Linked DNA regions of Homo sapiens: region 2 is linked to region 1. The links come from fine-mapping of genetic effects on gene expression. A gene starts in region 1. The other region holds a variant in brackets. All regions are shown on one strand. Distances are from middle to middle.

What was found. PIP is the estimated chance that this variant, and not a neighbour inherited with it, causes the effect.
Region 2: its variant is the best candidate, but not a certain one, in a credible set for the expression of ZNF37A in lymphoblastoid cells (TwinsUK, PIP 0.67).

The regions. Positions count from the first base shown.
Region 1 is chr10:38,088,912-38,100,210 of GRCh38, reverse strand. It overlaps ZNF37A (zinc finger protein 37A), which reads right to left and starts at 5,874. Exons shown (of 8, transcript NM_001324250.3): 1 at 5,721-5,874; 2 at 4,987-5,280; 3 at 4,582-4,673; 4 at 4,407-4,467; 5 at 3,579-3,637. The coding sequence starts at 3,593. It also overlaps the pseudogene FXYD6P2. RefSeq lists an enhancer at 5,731-5,920.
Region 2 is chr10:37,523,478-37,534,776 of GRCh38, reverse strand. It overlaps the pseudogene TACC1P1. Among named protein-coding and RNA genes, the nearest start is that of LINC00993, 220 kb to the right of the region's middle. The variant A/C (reference allele first, on the strand shown) is at 6,165.

The sequences.
Region 1 (11,299 bases):
ACTTGCCTTGTGATATTCTATTACCTTGTAAAGTACTTGATGTCTGTGACCCACACCTATTCGCATACTCCCTCCCCTTTTGAAACTCCCTAATAAAAACTTGCTGGTTTTATGGCTTGTGGGGCATCACGGAACCTACCGACATGTGATGTCTCCCCCAGAAGCCCAGCTTTACAATTTCTCTCTTTTATACTCTGTCCCTTTATTTCTCAAACTGGCCGATGCTTAGGGAAAATAGAAAAGAACCTACGTGACTATCGGAGCAGGTTCCCCAATACATTTCACCATAAAAGATATATAAATGGTCAACAAGCTTATGAAAATATGCTCAACATCACTAATCATTAGGGAAATACAAATCAAAACCACGATGAAAAATTACCATACACCCATTACAATGGCTGCTATCAAAACAACAAAAGAAAATAACGAGTGTTGGCAAGGATATGGAGAAATCAGAATCCTGCACAACTGAGGATGGGACTGTAAAAATGGTGTACCTTCTGTAGAAAACAGGTTGGTGTTTCCTCAAGAAATTAAAAATAGAATTACCATAGATTCCAGCCATACCACTTTTGAGTATATAACCAAAAGAACTGAAAGAAGGATCTCAAAGAGATAGTTGTACACCCACGTTCACAGTAACATTATTCACAACAGTTAAAAGGAGGAAGGAACCCAAATGTCCACTGACAGATGAATTAATAAAACATGGGTACAATGAAATATCATTCAACATTAAAAAGGAGATAAATTCTGACACATGCTACAACACTGAGGAAGCTTGAGGACATTATGCTAGGTGAAATAAGACTGTTACAATAAGACAAATACTGTATGATTTCACTTAAATGAGATATAGCAAAAGTAGTGAAACTCATAGAACAGAAAGTAGGATGGTGGTTGCCAGGGGCAAGGAGGAAGGGAAAATGGGGAGTTACTGTTTAATAGGTACAGAATTTCAATTTTCCAAGATGAAAAAGTTCTGGAGATTATATGTACGATATGAATACACATACATAACACTGCTTCTGAATTGTACATCCCAAAATGGTTAAGATTGCTAAAACAAAAAACTAACAATAAATAAAGATTCCTGCTTTGGCCACATATATTCAACATTGTACTAAAAATTCCAGCCACAGCAATTAGGCTAAATAAATACACACACCCAAATTGGAAAGAAATAAAAATATTTTCGTTTGCAGATGACATGATCTTATATGCAAAAAATACTGAAGTATCCACAAAGGAACTACTACAAGTAGGAAACAAATTCAGCAAAATTACAGGATACAAGATCAACACTCAAAAATTAGTTGTGCACAGTCAAAAAGCAAATTAACAATTCCACTTATAATAGCATTTAAACAAAAAAATTTTAGGCTTATGGGCCATTACAGTCTCTACTGCAACCAGTCAATTCTGCCCTCGTAGTGTGAAAGTACCCACAGACTATACATAAATACATGAGTATGGCTGAGTCTCAATAAAACTTTATAGACACTGAAGTCTGAATTTCATATAATTTACAATAGCATTTAAATGAAAAACTAATAAATTTAAGCAAGGATATGCAACACTTGTACACTGAAAACTACAAAACATTAATGAAGGAAAGAAGACCTAGGGGAAAAAAATCTTACATTCATGGATTATAAGATTTAATATTAAGATGATAACACTCCCCAAAGTGTTATTACCCACTCCAATACTTACCCAATGCAATACTTATCAAAAACTCAACATACTTTTTTGCAGAAATAGAAAAGCTAACTAAAAATTCCTATGGATTGCAAAGCACCCTGCTGTGGAAAACTGTCAGTTTCACAATAAATTAAACGTAAACTTACCATATGACCCAGCAATTTCACTCGTAGGTATATACCCAGAACAACTGAGAGCATGTATTCTAACAAATATTTGTACATGAATGCTCATAGGAGCACTATTCACGATAGCGAAACACAGGATGACCCCCAATGTCCATCAACAGATGAATGGATAAACAAAAGTTGGTATATCCATATAATAGAATATTGTTCAGTCATAAAAAGGGACAAAGTACTGATATACAACTACAACATAAATGGGTCTTGAAAACATTATTCTAAGTGAGAGATCAGACACAAAAGGCTACAAATTGTATGATTCCATTTGTATGCCATATCTAAAACAGGCATATCTATAAAGACAGGAGATTATTGGTTGCTAGGGGCTGGAGCAGAGGGGAAAAAGGGAGCAACTGCTTATTAAGTTACAACACTGCTTATTAAGGGTACTATGTTTCCTTTTGGTGTGATGAAAATATTCCAGAAATAAATGGTGGTTATGGTGGTACAACATTGTGAACGTACTAAAGTCATTGAATTCTATACTTTAAAATGGCTTAATTGTGAATTTCATGTGATGTGTATTTTACCATAATTTTTTTTTTAGGTAGAATCTCTTGAAAGTTATTGCAAATATTCCAGTTCTGCCCAGTCTCTAGGGCTGTCACAAAGCCTGCCACATCCTAACAACCCATGATCACCCTAGCCTACCAGGACTGTTTCTTTAAACAACCATAAGTCCTAATGCTACACAATTCATGTGATTTTTTTTTTTTTTTTTTTTTTTTTTTTTTTGAGACAGAGTCTCACTCTGTCACCCAGGCTGGAGTGCAGTGGTGCAATCTCAATCTCGGCTCACTGCACCCTCCGCCTCCTGGGTTCAAGCGATTCTCCTGCCTCAGCCTCCTGACTAGCTGGGATTACAGGTGCACGCCAACATGCCAAGCTAATTTTTGTATTTTTAGTAGAGACGGGGTTTCACCATGTTGGTCAGGCTGGTCTCGGACTCCTGACCTCATGATCCACCCACCTCGCCCTCCCAAAGTGTTGGGATTATAGGCATGAGCCACCTAGCCCGGCCTATTTGAATTTTTTAATCACATACTTTCTCTTGATATCGCTTAAGTTTTCCCCTGGACTGCACATGAATTATTCACTTCGTTGTACTACTTTTTCATGTAACTGCAAGATTGTCATCAGAAGTTTCACAGTGTCACCTAATAAAGCCCATTGACAAACTGTTTTATGTTCCAGTTTCACAACTCTGTGAGATCACAAGATCTGCATTCACTTACATGACATTTTTGTTTTACTCTTCATCAACTCTTTATCAGAAATCAGCAAACATTTTCTGTAAAGGGTCTCACAGTAAATATTTTAGGCTTGTGGGCCATTACAGTCTCTGCTGCAACCAGTCAACTCTGCCCTCATAGTATGAAAGTACCAACAGACAACACATAAATACATGAGTATAGCTGAGTCCCAATAAAACTTTATATATAATGAAATCTGAATTTCATATAATTCTTGTTTTTTTTCCCTCAGCCACCTAAAAATATAAAAACCATCCTTCGTTTGTGGACCATAAAAAAACATGCGGCAGGCTGCATTTGACCCATGAAATGTAATGTGACCTCTCCTCTATATTTTCCCTGATGTTATTTCTACTTTCATATGAATGTATAGACATTTTTTAAACCTCAATAATTACTTTTAAGCAAAACGGTGAAAAAATAAACAACTTACCTGGGATGTGATCATCTTCCACTGGTGTTGGAAGAGCAGAGCAAACTGTGAGGGTGTAGCTGAGAAATAAGAAAAGATCATGAGTGATGTCACTTGCCTTAAAAGGTCCACTTCGCAGCCGGCAAAACATCTCTGAAAGGGAGATACTCACACGCCCATGCATGACTCTGGCATGATTATGTACTGCTTGGACTCATTAGTTTTCAAATGTAAAAACGTTTGTTTTCTACTGACTTAAAAACAATTTATGCTGTACTCTAACAGAGTATGCAAACCGATATATTAAACTAATTAAGCAAGTTAGGAAAAGCCAAAGAGTGGAACATAATACTTTCATTAAAACTGATGCTAAACAAAAATACTCAGGTTTTAATCTTTATTACAAACCAGAGAATCCCAACAAGGTTTTGAAAAAAGCGATGTGGTATTTTTCAGCCCAGTTTTTTTTGTTTGTTTGTTTGCTTTTTTGAGACAGAGTCCTGCCCTGTTTGTTGCCCAGGCTGGAGTGCGATGGCATGATCTCGACTCACCGCAACCTCCTGCCTCAGCCTCCCAAGTCGCTGGGACTACAGGTGCGCACCACCACACCCGGCTAATTTTTTGCATTTTTAGTAGAGACGGGGTTTCACCATGTTGGCCAGGCTGGTCTCGAACTCCTGACCTCTTGATCCACCCCCCTCAGCCTCCCAAAGTGCTGGGATTACTGGCGTGAACCACCGTGCCCAGCCCAGCCCAGTTTTTTTGGAAGGAAAACGAACTTGCTCTAACTTGATTTGAGGTTCTCAAAACAATCTTTGGATTTAAAAAAGCAAACTGATTTTTACTTACTCTGTTGTCAACGCAGCAAACACCCTCCTGAGTCCTCAAGCGACTCTGTCTGTTCTTGACTCTGCCACAACAAAATGTGTCAATGTCATCAGTAACTTAACACGTTAAGCTCGTTTCCTGTCCACCCCACCCCATCCCATCTTTTAAATAAAGCGTAAATAGATAACTTACAGACCTTTCTCGCGGCTGTACCTCTGATTCTGTAAGATCAAGATGGGGGCATCCGTACATCTCTAGTTGTGCTGCAGTGCGCCAGCAGCTCAGCATCTAGAACGAGCGAGTAACGAATCCAGGCATGGAGGGTGCTGTCCTCCACTTGGCTGCTAAGCTCTTCCCTCCGCATGATGCCTTCACAACTCCCCAAGAAGCGGTGCTGTCTGCTCCTTCGGCCTTGCCCTCTTCTGCCCCCACATCTGAATGGGCACAAAGCTCCCAGCCTGTGGGGGTCTGGAAAGGACACAAATCGAGCCTCTGCTCCTCCCACCCGTGCTCTAGATCTCTAGTGAGGTGTCAGCCCAACGGGTTGGGTGTCCTCCTAGGAGGGCCCCTGGGCCCTCGCCCCCCACCCTTCCCTTCTTACCCCACAACAGCTGCTTTGCTCCAAGACAGCTGGGCCTAAGCCCTTTGGTTCGAATCCTCATTCAAGACAGAAAGCTCCTACATCTTCCTGTCACTTGAGCCATGAGCTGGACCCTCTGAAAATGCCCACTGGTGCTAATGGGGACACAGGCGAGGCTGGACAGTGCCGGAGGGCCTGGGGTGCCTCCCTCCGCGTGCGCGGCCTCACAGGTCAGTGGAAACAAGAAATTCCCCAATCCACAGCCACGATGACTTCAAAATACTTCCCGAAGACATCAGGCAATGAAGCTGCGACCTGCGAGGACACAGCAAGCCGAGTGACGCTGGCCAGAGGCTGGGTGTGGAGTCCGCGCCTGCAGGGTCCCTCCCCGCCCCGCGGGCGCTTCCCCCCACCCCATTCGCCTCGGCATCGCAGTGACACCGCGGCGACGCCGACCACAGGTGGTTGTGAGGACAGCGAGATTCTGAGGGGAAAGAATGAGAGAAGCGCGCATCTATTGGGCAGAAGGCCCGTTTCTGCGCCGTCCTGCGGAGGCCTCCGGGCATCCTTCACCTCAGGGAAGAGAAAATCCAACCTCACTTGTCACAGGCGCGGGACTTGCGCATTCCCTTTGGGAGCACAAGAACCGAGGCAGGATTCGGACCCAGGCCAGGCGGCAAAGGCGTTCCCTCTCTCCCACCCCCAGGCCGCGCGGAACCCCCAGTCCACCCTCGCCCCTGCCCTCCCTTACTCACCCTCCGCGTCCTCTACCCGGACGCCAGGAGATGCCGGGAGCCCTCCCCGTCAGAGTGCCGGGGAGAAAAACAAACCTGGAGCCATATGGCAGACATGCCCAGAAGGCCCGAAGCGGCTCCCGCGACGGGGGCCGAAAAGTGCACACTACATCTCCCACAAGTCCTCGCGCCGCTCCCTTAGAAAGTGCACGCTTCATTTCCCACAAGCCCTCGCGCCGCTCCCTTAGAAAGTGCAGACTACATTTCCCACAAGCCCTCGCGCCACTCCTTTTGAAAGGGCATGAGGTTTCAGCCGCATTGGGCAGTTAGTTCCCAGATGCGGCAAGTGCAGTACTGCAGTTTTATTCGTTAGCTGAAATAAATTATGAGTATTTAAATTACACAGCTTTCTCATGAATTACATCCCCCTGATGATTTGGCCGTCCTCAACACTTCCTCATTTGGCAGAATTCACGAGTGGAATTTCTCCAGACGAGGTCGGTTCCTGTGGCCCCGCGACGCTGCCGCAGCACCACCTACACTTGCGCCAGTGTGGAGAGCTTCACTTGCTCCTTTCTGGTCCATTGGACGCTAACCGTGAGAAAACACGCTGGACATGAGCATTACCAGCCTGTAAGCTGTCGTAAAGATAACTCGGAATTGCTCTTCAAATTTTATTTGTTAAACCACGTAATACCATCTTGCATGGCAAACATGCATTTTCCATTCTTCAGGAGTATGCAGGATCTCTTGATCACGATAACTTTTTAAAGTTCACAGGCAGAGGTAATACAGGAGTGGAAAACCAAAAACCGTAGGTTCTCACTTATAAGTGGGAGCTAAGCTATGAGTACGCAGAGGCATACAGAGTGATATAATGGACTTTAGAGACTCAGAAGGGGCTGGTAGGAAGGAGGCCGGAGGTTAAAAAAACTACACATGGCCAGGCGCGGTGGCTCACGCCTGTAGTCTCAGCACTTTGGGAGGCGGAGGCGGGTGGATCACGAAGTCAGGAGTTCAAGACCAGCCTAGGTAACACGGTGAAACCCCGTCTCCACTAAAACTACAAAATTAGCTGGGCGTGGTGGCACACACCTGCAGTCCCAGCTATTTGGGAGGCTGAGGCAGGGGAATCCCTTGAACTCGAGAGGTGGAGGTTGTAGTGAGCTGAAATCGCGCCATTGCACTTCAGCTTGGGCAACAAGAGCAAAACTCCATCTCAAAAATGAAAAAAAAAAAACTATACATTAGGTACAGTGTACACTACTCAGGTGACAGGTGCACTAAAATCTCAGAATCCACCACTTTATAATTCATCCATAACCAAAAACCACTTGTACTCCAAAAGCTATTGAAGTTTAAGTTAAAATAAAAATAAAAAATAAATGTCCACTGACCAAAAAAGAAGCATTTTTCTCCATTTCTATTCCCTTCTTTACCACCACTGATGATAATCCCACTTGTTCCCATGCTGGAAAAGCATTTAGTACCATCCATGTAAAAGAATCAAATTATTCAAGGGTTGAGATGCATTTCAGAAGACAGTCATGGTAAGTACAACAATGATTATCACTTCGAGACACAATTTATTTTCCTGCTCATAATGTTTTTTTTTTTTTTTTTTTTTTTTGAGATGGAGTCTGGCTCTGTAACCCAGGCTGGAGTGCAGTGACATGATCTCGGCTCACCGCAACCTCCGCCTCCTGGGTTCAAGCGACTCTCCTGCCTCAGCGTCCCAAGTAGCTGGGACTACAGGCTTGTGCCACCACACCCGGCTAATTTTTGTAATTTTAGTAGAGATCGGGTTTCACTGTGTTGGCCAGGCTGGTCTCGAACTCCTGACCTCGTGATCCGCCCGCTTCGGCCTCCCAAAGTGCTGGGATTACAGGCATGAGCCACTGCACCCAGCCTAATGCTTTTGCATTTTAAGAAACAGTCTTGACACTTGTGAATATTCCATTATTTCTTTTTTTTTTTTTTTTTAGACTGGATCTCATTCTGTCACCTGGGCTGCAGTGCAGTGCCAAGACCTCGGGTCACTGCAACCTCCGCCTCCCAGATTCAAGTGATTCTCCTGCCTCAGCCTCCCCAGTAGCTGGGATTACAGGCACATGCCACCACGCCCAGCTAATTTTTCCTGTTTTTAGTAGAGACTAGGTTTCACCATATTGACCAGGCTGGTCTCAAACTCCTGACCTCAATTGATCCATCCGCCTCAGCCTGCCAAAGTGCTGAGATTACAGATGTGAGCCACCTCTCCTGCCCTCCATTATTTCTTTAATGCATTCAGGTTCCATTATGCCATGGATTATTTCAGTAACATTGTTTGCTCTTCTTTCAATTTGCATAATCCTATCCCTAAAGAGATTGAAAACTAGGGACATGCCACTCTTAGGCTCCTTGGGACTCGACACATCCTCCTGGGATCATCTCAGGAAGGGGACTGGCTGTGCAGGCACCATGGAGGTGGTGCTGATATTCCTATGCAGCCTGTTGGCCCTCATTGTCATGGCCAGTGCAGCTGAGTAGGAGAAGGAAATTGACCATTTTCATTATGACTAACAGACCCTGAGGATTCAGGGGTTGGTATGTGCTGTGGTCCTCTTCTCCGTTGGGATCTTCCTTATCCTAGGTTGCAGATGCAAGTGGAGTTTCAATCAGAAGCCCGGGACCCCAGGGGAGGAGGAAGCCCAGGTGGAGAACCTCATCACTGCAAATGCAGCAAAACTCCAGAAAGCAGAGAGCTGAATGAAGTGCAGCCCTCCAGTGGGAAGCCTCCGGAACCTGAAGGCAGCTGCTTGAACTTTTAGATGCAAATATTGATGCTTAAGAAAACAGCCACTTCAGCAACAAATCTTTCCAGAAGAGAAGCCAAGAACTTTTTTGTCCTGCCATGCCCTTCCCTGTCCCCTCTAACACCATTCCTCCACCTGATGATCCAACTAATCTCTTGCCTCACCACTGCAGCCTGCAGGCTCCTCCAACTCGTGTTATGTGTCTGTGTGTGTGTTTGCTGACTATAGTGTTCATGGCTACTTGTTCATGGTGATTATAGTTAGTGAACTGTGGACTCACTTTCCTGGGCAGGGGCTGAGCCATGTGGCCGTCTGCTCCTCTCTGCCCCCCATCACCTCTCACTCCTGGGAGTCTGCTTTTTTCCCTGGAGAGTCTAGCTCCTTCCCTTTAGAGCATGGGCAGGAGTCTCCAGCTGTCTTGGGACCTGGGAAGGTTTGCACCACTTTCCTCATCTTTCTTCATGGAGTCTCTTCACTTCTTTTACAAGAACCTCACTTCCTTATCCCACTCCAACCCGTCTGTTCTGAAGATCAGCAATTGGAGATACAAAGCAAAGCAAGGAGTTTGTGAGCCCGGCATTACCTTCAGGAGGCTACTATACCCTTCCATGGTTATTTTTCTCCCTGGGGAAGCCCCAGGGAGCCCCATCTGCCCTGCCTTTCACATAGCACCCAGGGATTCCAGGCCCAGGGCTGCTGCTTTTTTTCTTTTTCTTTATTCAGACAGAGTCCCACTGTGTCACCCAAGCCGGAATGCAGTGGCACGATCTCAGCTCATGGCAACATGGGTTCAAGGGATTCTCATGCCTGGGCCTCCCGAGTAGCTGGGACTATAGGCACGCACCACCATGCCCAGCTAATTTTTGTATTTTTAGTAGAGATGGGGTTTTCCCTGGCCTCAAGCAATCCACCTGCCTAGGCCTCCCAAAATTCTGGGATTACAGGTGTCAGCCACCGTGCCCAGCCTGGGCCCAGGACTAATAATCTACACTTGGGGAATGTAGCCCCTGCATATCTTATCAGCAATAACCACAGGGGCTCTGGTGCCCCACCCATCTCCAACCTTCCTGCTTCTGAGACTTCAATCTATAGCCCAGTTTTTCTGGACACAGGCTCCCATCCCTGAAGCTGAGTCTCCAGCAGGTGATGACTGAAGGATTCCCATTCTGTTGCGGCCAGCACACTGGAATGGACAGAGGGAGAGTAAGGGGCCTTTGCTTCTCTGCCCATGTCCCCTTGGTCAGCAGAGACAACTCCCGCATCCTCAGTGGTCACAGAGGTGAGTTAAGTAGGTTAGAGACCCAGTAGGCTCCATGCTGCACTGCTGCAGAGGGTACAGGAAGAGGTCAAAAGTCATAATGAGACTGGGAGCTCAAACCGGATCCCACCATTCCTGTCCTCCATGTGCCTGTGGAAATCAACCAAACCCAGCCTCTGTGGCTAGACTGCTGTTTTCTGTATCACGATCTGTCCTCTGAGCAACAGAAAAAAGGAATAAAATATTTGTTTCCTAGTGAAAAAAAAAAACTATGAATAAAAAACAAGTAAACTTCACTCAATGGAGTATTTTTAAAGTAAACAAAAATTTTGGAGTCTTTTCTTGAAAATTAAAATTATTATTTCAAGACTTTACGTAAACTAACAACTTTATCAACTGTGTTAGTTACAGGAGCCAATGAGTTTCTAACTGCAAAGGAAATGAAGAATATCGAATGCCAAAAAAAAAATCACACAATCCTTTAATCACTCAATTCTAATAGTGTAAATGCTGAAGTAAGAGAACAATTTTGTGATAATTACTTCAATGAAAATGCAAAGAACATCAGATGCTATTTTGACATCATGATGCAGAATGTGGGCAGGACGGTCCACAACTTGGAATCTTTACTTCAGCTTGGACCAAGCATGTCTGTGCCCTTATGCAAACATCAACCACAATTTGTATTTGTATCATTGCCACCAAAAGCAGTTCAGAAGCAAAGGGAAAATATCTTCTGCCTTGTGATTACTTGTATCCATGGCTCTGCTGAAAATAGGTGAGGCATTTAGATCATTGATCATCTCTGTGATCATAGTGAAGCTATTACTTTTGTTGTTGTAGTAGATTTCCTCTTGGCTCTTCAAAATTTGATTGCATCTTTGGAATCAGAAAATACTTCTAGCAGTAATACTTTCAGTAATACTTTCAAACTGTCATTTGAGCTGAAAGACTGCTGCTGTTATATAGTGTGGCAGATGTTTACAACTTCCATTGCCATTACTATATCTCAATCTGAATTCTCTTTTTTTTTTTTTTTTGAGACAGTCTCACTCTGTCACCCAGGCTGGAGTACAGTGGCACAATCTCAGCTCACTGCAACCTCCACCTCCCAGGTTCAAGCAATTCTCTTGCCTCAGCCTCCCGAGTAGCTGGAATTACAGGTGCTTGCCACCACACCCAGCTATTTTTTTGTATTTTTAGTAGAGACAAGGTTTCACCAAGGTTTGCCCAGGCTGTTCTCGAACTACTGAGCTCAGGCAATCCACCCACCTAGGCCTCCCAAAGTGCAAGGATTACACGTGTGAGCCACCACACCTGGCCTTGAATTCTTTTTAATAAAAAAAAACTGTTTACAATTTTATATATTAGTTGAGGAAATCATATATCTTCCATGTTTAGCTGTTATTATGTGCTGGTGTCTTTCTCCATTTTTGCATACTGCACAAAAAGTTTCAAAAGGAATCGTTCCTCATTTAATAAATCTCCACTTTTCAAACAATCCATCACAAAGTTTATGCTTGAATTTTGGTATTTGGCATTCAAAT
Region 2 (11,299 bases), 570 kb after region 1:
TGTCTTATTTGTATTTTATCCTCATCACCTAACACTGACCAGAGTTTAACAAATTCACATGGGCTTCAAAACAAATACTGAAAGAAACCCGAGCCCCACCTGGCCCTCCACATTCAGGAACTTACAAGCATGGTGGACACGTCTTCTTCCACCTTTTGGCACGTCTCCTTCTCTATGCCTAAGACAGAAAGTCATTTTTATAGTTATCCCAATAAGTTGGTTGCTTTTCCCCCTAGTGAAAGGCTCTTGGAAACCCCAGTGCAGGCCAAGAATGACAGTGAACACATAAACAGCATTCCAAAATTTTATTTAAAAGGAGCGCTGGCATTCTGCTGAGCGCTGTGCAGTTCAGCATTACAAGTCCATGACATTCAGAAGAAGAGCACAGGTTAGTCAGCCACAAACAGGTCATCAACCTTCAGGCAGAAAGAACAGCAAGCCTGCACCCTTGTGTCCATTACAATTTTGGCTAATGCACTGGACTAACCATGGCATTACGGCAGAAAGTGAACACACTGTAACACTGATTTTTTTTTTTATCATCAAGTCTGAATGAACTTAAATTCCAGCCCAGAAGAGTGGCCTTGATCTAATTAATGCAGCAGATAAGATAATAAGCTTTAAAATTTAAGCCAGCAAATCTAAACTCATTCTTCCTCCATACCCTTCAAATGGGCTTCCTCATCTCAGGTCTATCCTCTACTCTACTAGGGTGGAGGGTGACATTTAAAATAACCAGAAGATGCACTCATTGAAGTAAACATAAAAATACAGAAAAGCATACAAAACTTTAAAGCTACAATCCTCCACATGGCAATCACTAACTACTATTGTTGTCAGTTAATTATTTAAAACACAAATGTGACCCTCACTCCCTTGTTCAAAAACCTTCAACCTCCCCACTCCCTACCAAAGGCTCAAGCCCAGATTCCATGGTATGACCTTGTTTCCCACTTGCCATGTACTCAGAGAAAGAAACTGGGCATTTTACCAACATGGCGGCTTCCTCCCCATGGCTGTGTGAGGGTCTCATTTCCCAGAAAACATCTAGGTAAGTAGCCATCAGGACCCAACTCCAAGTGGACACTCCCCAGGACATGGTCTGGATTCACCTAACAGGGCCTGTAGCCACCCCCACACCAGTACAGCAGCCTCCACTTGCCTGTGATGTGGCTGATCAGTTACAGTGTAGCCGGTTCTTTAAATCTCTTCCCCCTTTTTAAATCTGGTTCCCAATAAGGAACCAACTTATTGGGATAACTATAAAAATGACTTTCTGTCTTAGGCATAGAGAAGGAGACGTGCCAAAGGATGGAAGAAGACGTGTCCGCCATGCTTTATAAGTTCCTGAACGTGGAGGGACAGGTTGGGCTCAGGTTTCTTTCAGTATGAAGATAGCATACAGTACTATCTTCAAAGTTAGCAAACAGTAGGGGGAAGAGATGTAAACAAGTGTCCCAGCTGTCTGTATAAATTTTCGTTGAAGGAATTTCCTCGGGTGAGGAAGAATATAATTCAATAAATGTTTACCATGTACTGTGTCAAAGGTGACTCGAAAATGACCGTCTCCTAGTCTCTAACCTCAGTAAGTTTATAATATTACTTTCCTGTAATTGACACACTGCACTAGGTGCTGTGGAACAGGAAGGGGAATAGGAAATGTCATGGGAGCATAAAGCATGCAGGAGAGACCTGAAGGGATGTGCAGATCTGTGTAGGAGGCAGCAAAGGAAAACACTTCAGATGGACGAAATGAAGGCAGGTGCAAGAATACTCAGGATTAACCCAGAGAAACCGGCAGAATGGTGAACACGGTCTTTGGGAAAGATGTCAGGGCAGAAGGCAGTGTTGGACAAAATCAGGAACAATGCTTGGCCCAATATTTTATAGAAGAGAGACTGGGATCTGAGATGGGAAGGAGACCAGGGGGAATAAATTGCTCCAAGTCCTGACTTTCCATCTGCTTCCCTGGCTTAATGGCAGATCATGACTTTTAAAATTCTGTGCATAAAATGCCACAAATAAAATTATGTTGTTTAAGAAGATCTAAGTTTTTAATAATGTTTAATGTAGTCAGGAACATGTTTCTAAACTTTTCATAAGTAAAGTTTAAAGCCATCCATCTAACTTGGTACCCAGGAGAGGGGCTTAGCTCTAGAATGATCTGAAAAGTCCATCAGTAAGAGGCTTCAGCCCTGCTTAGTCCAACTTCCTCATTAGCACTTTAAGAAAGATTTTACAGTGCACTGGTCAGTTTCAACCTAACACACTGTACCAGGAAAATTTACAGTAGCCTAGGGTCATTAAGATAATCTCTTCACACTTTGACATTGTGGCTAAACGATCATGGAACCAGACTGCTTAGAGTCAAATGTAGTTCTACCATTTACTACTGACAAGGTTCAGAACACACTTCACCAAAATCTGGTGCCTTCGCACCTGAGGACACAGCAGAAGCAGGAAGGTCTCTTGGCACCTCTCCTGCCCTCTCCCCTGAAGCAGGCCATAAAGGAATCCCTCAGACCTTCCCATGAAAATAGGTCATAAGACCTAATAACAGAGGGGTCCTCCCTACACCCAGAGAAAAACAAAGTCCTTATCCTGAAAGACACAGACACTAAGAGGAATTGAAATAAACAGGATTGACTAAGTTCCCCTAGTTTATTACCATTAGATCACACCCTTCTGTCCTCCAATTGTACTTCTGCACAACTCTCCATAAAAGTACAGTTTTCCCTGTTTGGGTCTTCATTTCTGGAGGCTCTAATGTCATGTAAAACTTATATTAAATATATTTGTATGCTTTTGTCTTGTTGATCTGTCTTCTGTTAGAGATGTCTCAGCCATGAACCTTGTGATGAGTGAGGAAAGATACCACTTTTCTTTCCTACACTTGCCAAGAGACTTTAGTCAAGTTACTTAACTTTTTGCCTTCTTTGTTTCTCTGAAAAAAGGAGAAAAGAGTAACACCTTGCTATGAATAAGTATATGCAAGGCACTTAGAACAATGCCTGCACATGATAAGGCACCATATGTATTAGTTATTATTTCTGTAAGTTAAACAATGAACATAAAAATCATAAAAAGTCAGACATATGACATATTTATTTTATTTATTTTTTGTTTTACTTTAAGTTCTGGGATACTTGTGCAGAATGTGCAGGTTTGTTACATAGGTATATATCTGCCATGGTGGTTTACTGCACCTATCAGCTTGTCATCTAGTTTTTAAGCCCAGCACGCATTAGGTATTTGTGTTTATGCTCCCCCTCCCATTTTCCCCCACCCCCCTGACAGACCCTGGTGTGTGATTCTCCCCTTCCTGTGTCTATGTGTTCTCATTGTTCAACTCTAACTTAAGAGTAAGAACATGTGGTGTTTGGTCCTCTGTTCCTCTGTTACTTTGCTGAGAATGATGGCTTCCAGCTTCATCCATGTCCCTGCAAAGGACATGAACCCATTTTTTTTATGGCTGCATAATGTATGACATATTTATAGGCCATCTGATATAGTTTGAATATTTATCCCCTCTGAATCTCATGTTGACACTTAATCCCAATGGTGGAGGTGAGTGAGGCCTAATGGGAGGTGTTTGGGTCATAGGGGCGTATCCCGCATGAATAGCTTGGTGCCTTCCTTGTGGTAATGAGTGACTTCTTGGTCTCTTAGTTTCTGCAAGATATGTCTCTTAAAAACAGCTTGGCATCTTCCTACCCCTCTCTCTTCCTCCTTCCCTCTCGCCATGTGACCACTTGCTCCCCTTTGCCTTCTGCCATTATTGGAAGCTTCCTGAGTCCCTCACCAGAAGCAGACACTGGTGCCATGCTTCTTCTACAGCCTGAAGAAAAATGAACCAAATAAACCTCTTTTTCTTATAAATCATCCAGTCTCAGGTATTCCTTTACAGCAACGCAAATGAACTAACACACCACTACAAGATATGGCCATATTGACAGAAAATTATAAAGAAATTCAAGCAGTCTCACACACATCAGCGTCTCCTATACAACTTGCCACAAGTATCCCTATGTTCCTAGTACTTCAATAAGCACTTTTGTTAGTGTCCACTTTCTCGATAAAGAAGCAAAAGCATAGGTCAATAATCCTAAATCTATCCTTCCAGTGACCCAATTCTTTAAGCTCTGTAAGGTGCCTCCTGCTTCATTAGGCTTTCAGGCATTTCTATGCATATATACATTAGAAAGATGAAGATATGCTTCCATACCTGCTTCTGAGGATGAAAACGCATGATTTATGGTAGACATGGGAGCACTGGAACATTCAAAGTACTCCAGGTCTCCCTCTGGTCACCTTTCACCTTGCCCGCACCTGATTTCTGACCACATGACGTGGATGTCAGTTTCTCCTCATTGGTAGCGTGGACATCCCTATTAGAAATGTCTGAAATCTGGTAGATCACTGCCCCTTCATCCTGAGAAACACAACAAAGAAGATGTTACCCTTTAGGAGGGCAAGCAATGGGGAAAAGTGACATCTCATGAATGGAACCAAGTGGATACAACTCCATAAAGATATCTGAGGGAGTTAGCCACAGATCTGGGTACAAAGCAAGGAGGAAGCTGGAACTTTCAATTGTGACATGCTGTTTTATAGAACCTAGGTTCTGTAATTTGAGTCTGAGGTTTTAAAAAATGAGCTTCTCTAGGCTAAGTTTATCAGCAAGCAGTTTAAGTGGTCTAAGACAGTGGTTTTCAATTTTTTTTGATCAGATACCTCCTAATTTTTTTAAATCTATGTACCCCATTTCATTTTCAAATGACATCTAAACACTTTTCAGCATAAGTTTAAATAATTGCAAAGAATGTAATATCTGCCTTATTCTAAATATTGAATTTGCTTAATGCTATCTAGTTACCTTTGTGATATGATACCATATGATCCATTTTAAATTTACACAAACAAGTTCCTGAATAAGTCAGAAATTTACGTTATTCATTTTCCATTACGTTATTCATTCCACTTCCATCAAGAAATTATCCCAATGAAAAACATCTGCATGACTGAAAGTCTTTTAAAGGTCTCTATCCAATGCCTCTGTTACATTTTTTTCTTTGACTATAAGTCTTGAGGTGTTAAATTTTTTTTTCTGCTGATGAGTTATTGTTACATTTACTAATGCACAACTTATTTTCAAAATATTGCAAGTTTTGATAAGTATTAGACACAAAAGTAAATTTTTATATCATCTACAAAATGTTTTATTGCACTAATTCTTAAAAACTTTTACAGTACAAAAATATGTGGGTTTGGGTTTTTCTTTAAAGAAAACAAAAGATAAATTTCTCATAGTTCTTGTTGCCTACATTAGCAAAATTTGAGGGAGAATCTTTTACACATTTGTAACAGATGAAAAATAACTCAGATTGCAAATTTCCCCCCACTGCACCCCTTTTTTTACATCTTACACCATATACCAAATTTCTGGTCCAAATTGTACAGAATAAGTTATGTTAAAATTGAATTCTATTAGCCAATATGAATGTATTTCTAAAATCATAAGCATACTGACATAAAGTTTTAAAAAGAACAAAAGGATCTCGTTGCAATCAGATGGGCTTGGGTTTTGGTTTATGTGTGTTTTGCAATTAGTTCATATGGTCATGGATGCATACTGTTTATTGCTAGAATGTAACAGAGGTCAATGTCAATTTTATTCATGATTTCTATTTTTATAATTATAATTATTAAGAAACCTTATTTATATAAACGATAGATGAAACAGAAGGTAGTTCTGTAACAGAAGGACTTTCAATTCTTTGAACCCCTTTCCAAGTCATGTGCCCAAAAATTCTATCATCAAAGATTATTTTTAGATCTATCAGCTAACAACTCAGGTCTTCTTATTTTGTCGAAACCAATGAATTGGGAAACCATCTGACTTAAGAAAAATATCTTTCAGTTATTAGAGTCAATTATCTTCTTAGAACCTATACCAATATTTCAGATCTTCCCTTTGGTGCCCTGGAGACTTTCACACCCTGTGGTGATGCATCTTTGTAGCTTTTAGTGAGAGTTTTACAAAAAAAAAAAAATGGAGACAAAGAGAGAGAGAGAGTCATTGTGAAAGGGTTCCCTTTTCTTCAGGCGCCTTTTCTTCAGGGACAGTGAGGATCTGGAAATTGGTTTCTCAGGCACTCATTGGA[A/C]AGTCCTTATGATCCACTCCCGCTGGGGGACCCCTGGTCTAAGAGACATTCTGGGGATGAGCACAGACTCACCTGAGAACATGCACCCAGGCAAGAGACTGAGTTTCATGCTTCTTCACCTTAAAGCCACTCCTGGCAAGAGAAGAAACATAAAAAAGCTAATTTGGAACCACACTGACAACTGTCAAGGTATGAAATGGGACAGAGAGCAGTGTGTGCAGATAGAAGCCAAAGCGTACAGCACCACACACACCATACATCTACCTGTGAGAGAGGCAGGGACACCTTTTATGCCTCTGAGTTTTCTCTGGAGAGAAGAGGTAAGCAAAGACCTAGAGCGGGGCTCATTCTCTGAAAAGACCCCCTTGCTTGCTTCTGTGAGTTTTCAAACACTAGCACTCTGATGTCTATGGTTTTTAATTACACACCACCAAAAGCTTTTCAGACAGTAGAGCCTTAGCAGCTGGAGACATTCAGTTCCTCTGAGCCTCCCTTGCTTGGCTTTGACATTCATTAGAAAAATCATCACGCTGGACTGGTTTCTTTAAAAATTCTTTATTTCACCAAAAGCCACAGAAGTCTCATAAAACAGTTCCAGTTAGACTTGTGTGTTCACAGACAAGAACTGTGGTCAATAAAAAGTGTAAAAATAAAAATATGTGAGTAAACGGTTACCATTCCTATTAAGTAGTAAGATGGAAGATGAATGCCACATATTACACCAAGCCTGAAGCTGGGGAAAGCTTGAACCACCTGTTATTTGTAGACTAGCACAAAATTTGTGATTACAGGACTAATTGAGATTCTGTTCTGTTTTAATAAACTTAGAATTTTCAGTAAAAACACCGTGACCAAAAAAAGAAAAAAAATTTGCAACTTCTTTCTTTTGCAAGAAAAAATAAAAAGACAACCACATAAGTTACCAGAATGTGCATAATCATTACTTCATGATCTTCTTTCCCTAGTTTTCCTACTGAGTGCCACCCTCTGCCACCAAACTCAAGTTGAGCTGACTCAGTAAAATTAACTGTTCCAAGCCAGTAGCTTTATCTTACCAAAAGTCAATGATTTCCAATATTAAATAGCAGAACAGTCCCTCAAACCACTGCTTGAGGCCAAGCCAGCTCTTGGTATTGTCAAAGCACCACGTGACACTTGCCAGGCTAGGGAGTGCAAGTTCTCACACCTAAGGTGTAAAGGCCAAGCCCCACTCCCTGAGGTGCGGACACCTACAAAGCTTAGCTAACTCATGAAGTGGCCAGTGAAATACAAAAAATCATCAAAAGATCAAACTCAGAAGCAAACCATGCTATGGAGAGATGGCTCAGGGAGGATGGGAGAGAAAACTGCCAATGGTCCCAGGGACAAACAGAAACAGCAGGAGTACTTACAACAGAAAACAGAGAAATTTCACTTGTTTAATAATCCCGATGCACCAACAAAATTAAGAGACAGGAAAGACACAGAGGGAGAAAAAAATCATGTAAAGACTGGAATATTCAACTCCAGTCTTGCAGATGTAAAAGCTGCACAATTCTTTCTATGAGGTGAGATACTAATTTAAAATGTCATATTCATGAATGTTATCACTAGTGAGTGAATGATTAACAGACCTCAACCATAAGAGAGACTGGTAGAAACACTCAGAAATGCCGCAAATTCAAATTTGTAGATGAAAAGTAAACTTCCAAGAGGTCTAGCACTGCTTTCTTGTATAAAGAACAAGAAAACAAGATTTTTGGTTGCATAAGGACCTTTAAAAAAACCTATTAAGTGTATTAGATCAAGAAGTTCATTTGACAAAAACAGAATAGGGGAAAAAGGCTACCTACCAGGTGAGGGTGGTAGGACTCGAAAGATGGTATTTCTTGCTACTGATTATAAAGTGTAGAATGAATTACCCTCTCTTTGGCCCAGATTTCATCTTATTTGACATGAATGCACTGCTTGCATGCAACTGAAAGGCTCACAAACGACTCCTTATCGACTTCAGTAGGCTGAAACATCTCACATTTAGAGGAGGAAGTAACTAGGCAGTGATGTGCCCAGTACATACCCCAACTACTGTCTAGAGAGAACTAAATAACCTTAAAAGCCACAAAAGAGGGCACCAAGTCAATAATATTTTTCAACAACCATTTAACTGCTGATATATAATCAAAGAACAGATCCAGAGTTACTAATGACATTTCACTCCCCTTAGACGTTCTGGGGCTGCTGAAGAACTGACTCCTACATCGCTCTATTTTCTTGGTACTTTAGTCCATCCTTCTGCTCTTTAAACTTCTGGGTGTCTTCCTTTCTGCTGTAACTCACCATGGCATCTGGAGTTTTTCTTTAAGTCATAGCAACACTGAGAAGCATTTCCCCAACTGATCTATAGTGACAACTACAAACACAGTGCTTCTTGCACTCCTTTTCCATACTTCATGCTGCAACTCCTTGGTCCTTCTTTATATCTACATTTTACTGAAACGTTTTAGCAAAATGTCACAGGGCCGCAAAAGGAAGTACAGTCATGTGCCACGTAATAAACTTTCGGTCATGTGGTGGTCCCGTAGGGTTATAATGGAGCAGAAAAACTATTGCCTAGTGATGTCCTGACAATCCTGACCCTGTGTAAGCCTAGGCAATTTGTGTGTCTGTGCCTTAGTTTTTAACAAAAAAGTTTAAAAAGTAAACAAATAAGTAATTTTAAACAAAGAAAACTTATGAACTAGGGATATAAAGAAATAAAATATTGTGTATAGCTGTTCCATGTGTTTGTTTTTTAAGCTAATTACTATTACAAAAGAGTCAAAGCTTCTTTAAAAGTTCAAAAGTTGATAAAGTAAAAGAGTAAATTTAATTTACTATAGAAGGAAGAGTTTTTAAAAATAAATTTAGTGTACCTGAAGGATACAGTGTTTATACAAGCTACAGTAGTGTACAGGAATGTCCTAGGCCTTCACATTCACTCACCACTCACTCATTGACTCACTCAGAGCAACTTCCAGTCCTGCAAGTTCCATTCATGGTAAGCGCCCTCTACAGGTGTATTATTTTTTATCTTTTATACCATATTTTTACTGTACCTTTTCTATGCTTAGATATGTTTAGATACACAAATGCTTACGACTGTGTTACAATTGCCCACAGTAGTTTGTTTTCTTGTTTTTTTGTTTGTTTGTTTGTTTTGTTTTGTTTGTTTTTAGACAGGGTTTTGTTCTGCCAGCCAGGCTGCAGTACAATGGCAAAATCATGGGTCACTGCAGACTCAACCTCTTAGGCTCAAGCAATCCTCCTGCCTCAGCCTCCTGAGTAGCTGGGACTACAGGCATGCACCACCACTCCCAGCTATTTTTTTTAAAAAACTTAAGAGACAGGAGGTGTGTTTTGGCAGCGGGGGGCATCTCACTATGTTGACCAGGCTGGTCTCAAACTCCTGGCCTCAAGGGATCCTCCCACCTTAGCCTCCCAAAATGTTGGTATTATAAGTGTGAGGCATCACACCTAACACCTATAGTATTCAGTACAATAATGTGATGTACAGGTTTGTAGCCCAGGAGCAATAGGTTGTACCATTTAGCCTAGGTGTGTAATAGTCTACATCACCTAAGTTTGTGTAAGTTGACTTTATGATGTTCACACAAAAAAATCACCTAAGGATGCATTTCTCAGAACTACCCTGTGGCTAAGCGATGTATGACTGTATTATAATGTACTCAACTAAAGTTTTGTGATAAACTAATCCTGTAGCAAAGTTAAACTGAAACTTGATATAGAATGTGACCTTAAGTGATTACGCTGAAAACTCCAAGGACCTTGCAAAAGTCAGATGATTTCCCAGGAGAGATGAGAGATGGGGGGACTGATTAAACCAACTAATTTACTCAGTTTTATCTGATCATTTAAAATATTCTTGATTCTAATTGGAAATTTACCTCCTTGCTGATGAGTTAGAAACTACATATGGAAACAAGAATGCTCACCAAATTTTAGTGGTAGATTTGTTTCCAACAAAAGATCACAGTTTTCTGTTTATGTAAAAAGACTTTCTACAAGACCCTTTTGAGCCATTTTCTACACGTTATTGATACTACATAGGTAATTTATAGGACTGGAATTTCTGTTTTTTCCATAAAGAATCTGAAGACAGTGGCCAGCACTGACATTTGAATTCTGTCTATAATGTGACTCCTGACAGCCTCGCCAGGATTTCTGAAAACCGTCGAATCTCTACCTACCTATCTTATGCCACTCTTTATTTTTTTTAAACATAAAGACGTCTCCAGGCCCAGGGAAAGGAGCTTACCTCATTAAGCTGAGGATTCAGAAACAAGACAACAATCTGAAAAGGAAACGTCTGGTATTTCTTTTCTTTTTTTTTTTTTTAATACTCTAAGTTTTAGGGTGCAGCACACCAACATGGCACATGGTATTTCTGATTCTACACAAGTTAGGCCAAATAGGGAAGACTATAGGATAATGTTATAAGCTTTGTATCAACCTTGGTGGACCTCAAAGGTAAATTCAGTTCACCAAAGCCAAAAGTAGCCATCTGACAAACTCACAGAGAAGACACAGAGCGTGACACCCAGCACCCACTGTCACTCATTATTCAATGTGACTTTGCCTTCTTGGGTGATTCTAATATTTCTTTAACATGATTTCCAGTGGGAGAACAAAAGTCACTGCTTGTTAAGGTCACAGTTGGTTTAAAGGGATCCATGGATTTATCAAAGTTATTTGGGTCAAAGTGGTAGAAGCCCTCAGAAGACAGGGTTGGGGAGTTCTGCAGAATGGAGTGGCTCCCAAAGGGGTTGAAGCTGGGCTTATCCCACTGACTAGGATCTAGCTTGGAAGACACTTGGGAGAGAGGCCCATCTTATGCCACTGTGTCTGTAGGCTTTTCGACACCTGCTTACTTACTGATACCATCTTTTTGTATCTTGTGAGTCAGTTTGCTACCCGGTTTCTTGCCAAGTTTCCTTGGAAGGGCTTTCGTAGTGCTGGGAGTTTCTTTAAGGTCAGGAGGAGACTTCTGGAACCCGGCACTTCCTAACAAAGAAGGACTTGTGTTCTCATCCACCTCTTCAGGACTGAAGTGGTAGGATGCCTTGGGGAGAGGTGTGCCTTCCACAGCAGTGCCGGCA